Linked DNA regions of Homo sapiens: region 2 is linked to region 1. Evidence: fine-mapped expression QTL. A gene starts in region 1. The other region holds a variant in brackets. All regions are shown on one strand. Distances are between the middles of the regions. Region 1 holds the start of ZHX1 (zinc fingers and homeoboxes 1). Region 2 overlaps ZHX1-C8orf76 (ZHX1-C8orf76 readthrough).

The links.
Region 2: its variant is fine-mapped to the expression of ZHX1 in whole blood (INTERVAL, PIP 0.94).

What each region holds. Positions count from the first base shown.
Region 1 is chr8:123,272,739-123,275,645 of GRCh38, reverse strand. It overlaps ZHX1 (zinc fingers and homeoboxes 1), which reads left to right and starts at 1,360. Exons shown (of 4, transcript NM_007222.5): 1 at 1,360-1,429. It overlaps ZHX1-C8orf76 (ZHX1-C8orf76 readthrough), which reads left to right and starts at 1,360. Exons shown (of 6, transcript NM_001204180.2): 1 at 1,360-1,429. RefSeq lists an enhancer at 10-129 and silencers at 610-1,299, 1,500-1,699, 1,736-2,103.
Region 2 is chr8:123,248,724-123,251,630 of GRCh38, reverse strand. The region is part of intron 2 of ZHX1-C8orf76 (ZHX1-C8orf76 readthrough); the gene reads left to right. It overlaps ZHX1 (zinc fingers and homeoboxes 1), which reads left to right. Exons shown (of 4, transcript NM_007222.5): 4 at 1,311-2,907. Among named protein-coding and RNA genes, the nearest start is that of C8orf76, 8.8 kb to the right of the region's middle. RefSeq lists an enhancer at 377-586. The variant C/AC (reference allele first, on the strand shown) is at 1,794.

The DNA.
Region 1 (2,907 bases):
AGGAGAATCGCTTGAACCCGGGAGGCAGAGGTTGCAGTGAGCAGAGATCGCGCCATTTCACTTCAGCCTAAGCGACAACGCGAGACTCCGTCTCAAAAAAAAAAAAAAAATCAGACTTCCACTTGAAGCAATTGCATCTTTTAGGATTAATGTGGCTCAGCGGAGCTCTGCTGTGCTTTTAGGATTACTGTGGCTCAGCGGAGCTCTGCACAAAGGGTCCGCGACTGGGATGGGGGTGGGGAGTGAACGTCAAGGGGCCCAGGAGCGCTCGAGCGTCCAAGGCCCGGCGTGTGGAGCAGCTGGAGGGTGAGTCGCCGCTCTCCGCTTTGGTTCTGTTCCTCCACGTTCTGACCGCGGTGCGGGGGAAAGGGAAAGTGAGTAGGGAGGGGCGGAGACGCCGGGCAGTGTTCCCGAAACCCCTGGCCCTCGCTGGCCCCGCTGCGGGGCTGGTTCCCTGAAAGCCGACGGGATGTGAAGCCCTCGACTCGGACAGAAGCCTCTGGAAGAGCGAGTGGCGGTTCGCAGGGAGGAGGGCGGCTGAGGGGCAGAGGGCGGCTCCGCCTTGCCCGGCGGTTCTGAGTGCAGCTGAACTGAACTTTCGGTGTCAGCGGGTGGAGCTGCGGCCCGCGGAGGAGCGGGGTCCGAAGCGAGGAGAGGTGGAGCTGCCGCTGACAAGGGGCGCGGCGACTTCTGTCAGGGCGCTGGGCTCCCGGCCGGACTCGCAGCAGCCCCCCGAGGGGCGGGGCCTGGGTCGTGTCGCCCCAGGGGATGGGCGTGTGATGACAAGGGGCGTTTCAGTAGAAGCCAGCATGCTTACCTCTCACGATCCAGCAGTGACATTAGGAAGGCGGAGCGCAAGGAAGGCGGGGCTGCCTTCTGTGCTGACCCGAGAGAAGACCAGGCTTCAGTCCACAGCGGGCGGAGCGGTCGCAGGCAAAGGGCGGGGCCATTTCGAGCCCTGGGAAGGCGGGGCGTCTCCTGACAGGGGGCGGAGCTTCCGCAGTCTGGGGCGGGGCTTCTGTTGACAGGGGGGCGGGGCGCCTCCCTACCTCCCGCGGTGCGCCAATCCCCGGACTAGGGGCCGGGGTCGGACCCCAGTGGAGTAGCAGGGTCTGGGCGTGGAGAGCTCGGCGCCGCACGGGGTGGGGGCGCGCGGAGGACGCGCGCGCGGGAGGGCCCCGCCTTGGCCGGCTCTCTCCCTTCCCCCTCCGCCCCCGGACGGCCGCTGGGGCGCGCGCCTCTCCTCGCACCCCCACCCTGAGTCCCCACACTCCGCGGGGCCACCGAGCTGCTGAGGCCCCTTTGCGGGCCCGCCGAGCGGTTCCGGGTTTAGGGTTCACAGGTCAGAGTTGACTCCCTGAAAAGTGCAGCCGGTTTGAAATGCAAGATGGCGGCGGCGTGGCGCTGAGAGGCGCGGCGGCCCCTGCAGGTAGTGGCGCGAGCCGGCTCCGCGACCAGCGGGCCCGGAGACTCTGGGCTGCGGGTGGGAACTGGAGCGCAGAGTCCGCGGCCGGCACGGGAAAGGCGAGTAGCGCGGGGCCTGGCGGGAGGAGGGCAGCCTCACAGCAGAGACCCCTGGGGCTGAGCCCGCTCGCGGCGGCGGGTGGCGGGGTGGACCCGGCGTGGGGCGTCCGAGGGGGAGGGACGGGGCCTGCCTCGCGGCTGGGTAGTCGCCGCAGAGGGACAGACAGACCCACAGCCTCCCTCGCTCTTTTTGGGTGTCTCCGCCACCGAAAGAGCTTGGGGGCGGGGGGCTCTCTGGAGGGAACATCTCAGCCCCCTGCCTTGGTGAGGACCCAGCAACTTAGGATTGTTGAGAGGAGTGAAGACTGCGTATTCCCAGCGGAGGGCGCCGCCGGAGGGAGCACCCCAGTAATGTTGGGAGTCCTAGAGGAGGTCAGGAGCGCTGTCCTCCGGGGGCGTGTGGCTGCCTCGTGGGGGACCCAGTCTCCCTGAGAGTAAGGAGAGATTCTCTTGCTGGAGCTGAGCGCACTGACTGAGGTTGGAGCCCCAGCAAACCCTTCAGGAGAAGTCTTTACCTCCAGTTCAAGGAAGGCTATGCGCACCCGTTTCGGGGCCAGGCCATGTCCCAACTTTGGGAAAGACTGGGAGTTGAGTCCTTAAGAACCATATTACGATTGTGACGAAGCCCTGGGATTTAGGGAGAAGTTAATTAAAGAGGATGGTAGGGGCGTGGGGGTGTGGGGGCTGACCCATGGGAATCCTCCAAGCCTTAGGGCCCACAGTGAACAATCTACTAATACCTCAAGGGGTATAAAAGGCTGGGAAGGAGAGGTGTGAGAGGAACAAGGTCTAAGGGCAGGAAAGAAGAGCCCTGGCAGATCCCCTTTCCTTATATATTTACACCAAAGTTGGAGGTAAAGGGACTTGGCAATTCTTTGTTTTAGTACCTTTCCTGTCCTCTCTCCTCCGTGGGTAACTGTAAGGAAAGAGCATAGCCCCTGAGAAGGAAAAGATTCCATTTGATATCCTTAGCTTAGGTTAGTGAAGGATCCAGCAGCTGGGAAGGCGTCAATGAGAGACAGCAGGCGGGGGAATTAGAACAGAGACTAGGGATGAGAAAAGAGGAATACAGGGAAGATATCGGACAGAGCAGGAATTCCACAGCCCTTTTCTGTCAACTCAGCCCAGCTATTAGAAAAAAAAAAAAATGCGAAGAGCTAATATTTGAGAGAAAAATGTAAAGGCTGAGAGAGAAGTCGTGATGTGATTAGGTTGGGATTCCATGTAACTTAAGCAGTTCTCTTGGAGGTTAATGTGATAGCAGAAAAAGGAAAATCACAAAATTGGAAAATATACAGCGGTTCACGGTTAGGGAGGAAGAAGCAGTCTCCCCCCAGGAACAGTGAATATTTGGTTTGGGGTGTGTGTGTGTGTTGTGTGTAT
Region 2 (2,907 bases), 24 kb after region 1:
AAGATTAAATCAACAAATTTGTTGCTGCAGTGAATGTTGTTGTTGTAACCTCTGCAATGATTTTTTTGGGGAGTTGCAGTCTTCCAAAAATAATGTGAATTTTTCTGTACAGTTTAGTTTGACCTTTAATTTTGTATAGATAATTCTTATGTTATATATTAACACTGTAATGGATACTAATTCTGGTCAGAAAATTCATCCTAAAACTACAGTTTTCAAAAGACTGTATGATGTATGCTATACATGCACTGTATTAGTCCATTTTCACACTGCTATAAAGAACGACCTGAGACTGGGTAATTTATGAAGAAAAGAGGTTTAGTTGACTCACAGTTTTGCCGGCTTAACAAGAAGCATGACTGGGAGGCCCCAAGAAACTTACAGTCATGGCAGAAGGCGAAGGGGAAGAAGGGGAAGCAAGCACATCTCACCATGACCGAACAGGAGAGAGAGCGAAAGGGGATGTTCCACACAACTTTCAAACAACCAGATCTCCTGAGAACTCACTCACTATCATGAGAACAGCCAGAGGGGAAGTCCACCCCCATGATTCAGTCACCTCCCACCAGGCTCCCTCCCCCGACACTCCCTGATTAAAAGTTATGTATGGGCTTATACAATTTCAAATGTAAAAACAGCCTATTTACATATGTTGAAACAATAAGATTTTGTGGTATCACTGTCCCTTAATAATTACAATTCAAGGTAAGATTTGGATGGGGACACAGAGCCAAACCATATTATATACTTTTGTGATAGCATAGAAGCATGCCTTTTTAAATACACAAAAGTCTAAATTTCTGAAACATCAAGTTATCCTTGGCTGAGTAAAATAATTTTTCACTTATAAGAGGATTCACCATAGCCTTCTCTAAATAGTTATTTCTTCATTTAAATATTGTTCAATTTACCAAAAAAGTTACCAAAACCTTCCCAAAATAGTTATTACAGGAAGTGAGGTACATATATATCTTTTGCACCTTGTATAGAAATAGAAAAAAGTACAAGTCTTTAGATTTCATAGTCTGCTTATTACAGATACTGACAATGAAATATATACTCCCTGCTCATACAGTTTGAAATAAATTATTACATAAAGATGATAAATGTTTATAAGCAAATCTAGCATATGAAGAACATATACATAGATGAGTTGCACACAAAGCCTAGTGTATTATGGAAGACATATGTGGCAGGTAATCTCAAGAGAATACAAAAGATGTATTTTCACTTTTATTTCTAAAAGTAGTAAAAATTAAAATATGGTTTTCTTTAAATTTTCAGTTTTTTATGATGTTTTTCTTTTTTAGCTGCCTAAAACGTTGAAGGAGAATCAATTCTTCAACTCAAGATGTCTGATTTACTGTGAATTTGCCCAATCTTTGATGACATTGAAAACGTTTTGGGGCATACACACTCAAAAAGCAGGATCCAATACCCAAAAGAAATGGAACTTAATGTTGTGCCAAAGTTAAACTACTGCAGTTGGTGGAAGTTCTGCAATGTAAATAGAACACTAATTAAAAAACAACTTGTAAAAATGCAATTTAAATTTTAATACAGTACATTTTTCTTCTAATATGATGGAGACATTCTGAATCTTAGACTTTCTGAGGGGGTTTAATGACCACTAGAGCTTGTCCTCATATTCAGTCCAGTTTAATACTGTATGTCTAGTAAGATGGGCTATATATTGCCTCTATTCTTTGAGATGTGATTAAGCTTAGAACTTTGACCAAAAATTTTACAGTAAAAATTGTTAGAAATGGGTAAAAAAAAAAAAAAAAAAAAAA[C/AC]CCTGATTTATTACTATGTCTTATTTATCAGACCCTGCACTAAGATTAAAAGTTGTGCATGGGCTTATACAATTTCAAATGTAAAAACAGCCTATTTATATATGTTGAAACAATAAGATTTTATGGTTTCACTGGCCCTTAATAATTGGATCCTTCATTAAACACATCCATGAATACCACTGTTTCTACTGTTACTTGTTCCATTAGAAGCTGATTTGCTTTTTATTAAACTGCAGGAAATTAATTCTGAAGAAGGAAAAGAAACTGACATGGTAATTTGGATAGGGTGAAGCTTTGAAATAAATACTGCACCAAAAATGTGAAAAAGAATCACGTAGTAAATGTATACTTAGTGTTTTCTTACAATCGTGGAAATCAGAAATGTTTATACAGGTGTCAGATCAGAATTTTTAAGAGTTATCTTTCAGTGAAATTTTATAACAGTTTCAGTGAATAGAGAAAAAATTCTGAACTGATCATAATGAGTTAAAAGTTAGCTTTTCACTTATGAATCATGGGAGTGTTAACTGTTAACTCTTGCCGTATCAGGAGACTGAAAGTTCATACTAATTTACAAACTTTGTAAAGACTGGTGCTGTTCATTCATATTGGGAAGAACCCTTTCTTTTGTGACCATAGGACCATTTTTCAAAATGCGCTTTCTTCGTAGAAGAAATGTTCAGTTTAATTAGCTTTGGATTTTAACATGTTTTTCTGAATGACCAGATGTAGGCTTAGCCAGTTTATTTTCTCTAATTTAATGGATAATAAATATTAAGCTCTTGGTTAAATGTTTTTCAGCCATTGAAAATGTTATGAAAAAGCCTTGAATATGCATGCTGCTTTCATTTTTATAAACTTTTTATTTTTTAACTATAGCTTTATTAGTAATTCCAAAATGCTGCAATGTAGCTGATTTCCTCACTCAGACAGCTGGCTTTGTGGGTGGCTTTTTTCATACTACTGTTAACTTTTTTAAAAAAGAAGCAATGTAAAGACCGTAATGCACTAAGCTTTTTTTTTTTCTTTTACACGTTTAAAAACTTCTTAAAGCACTCTGTAATATAATGATTAAATTGCTCCCTTTTATAAACATTGCTAATGTGGTCTGAGT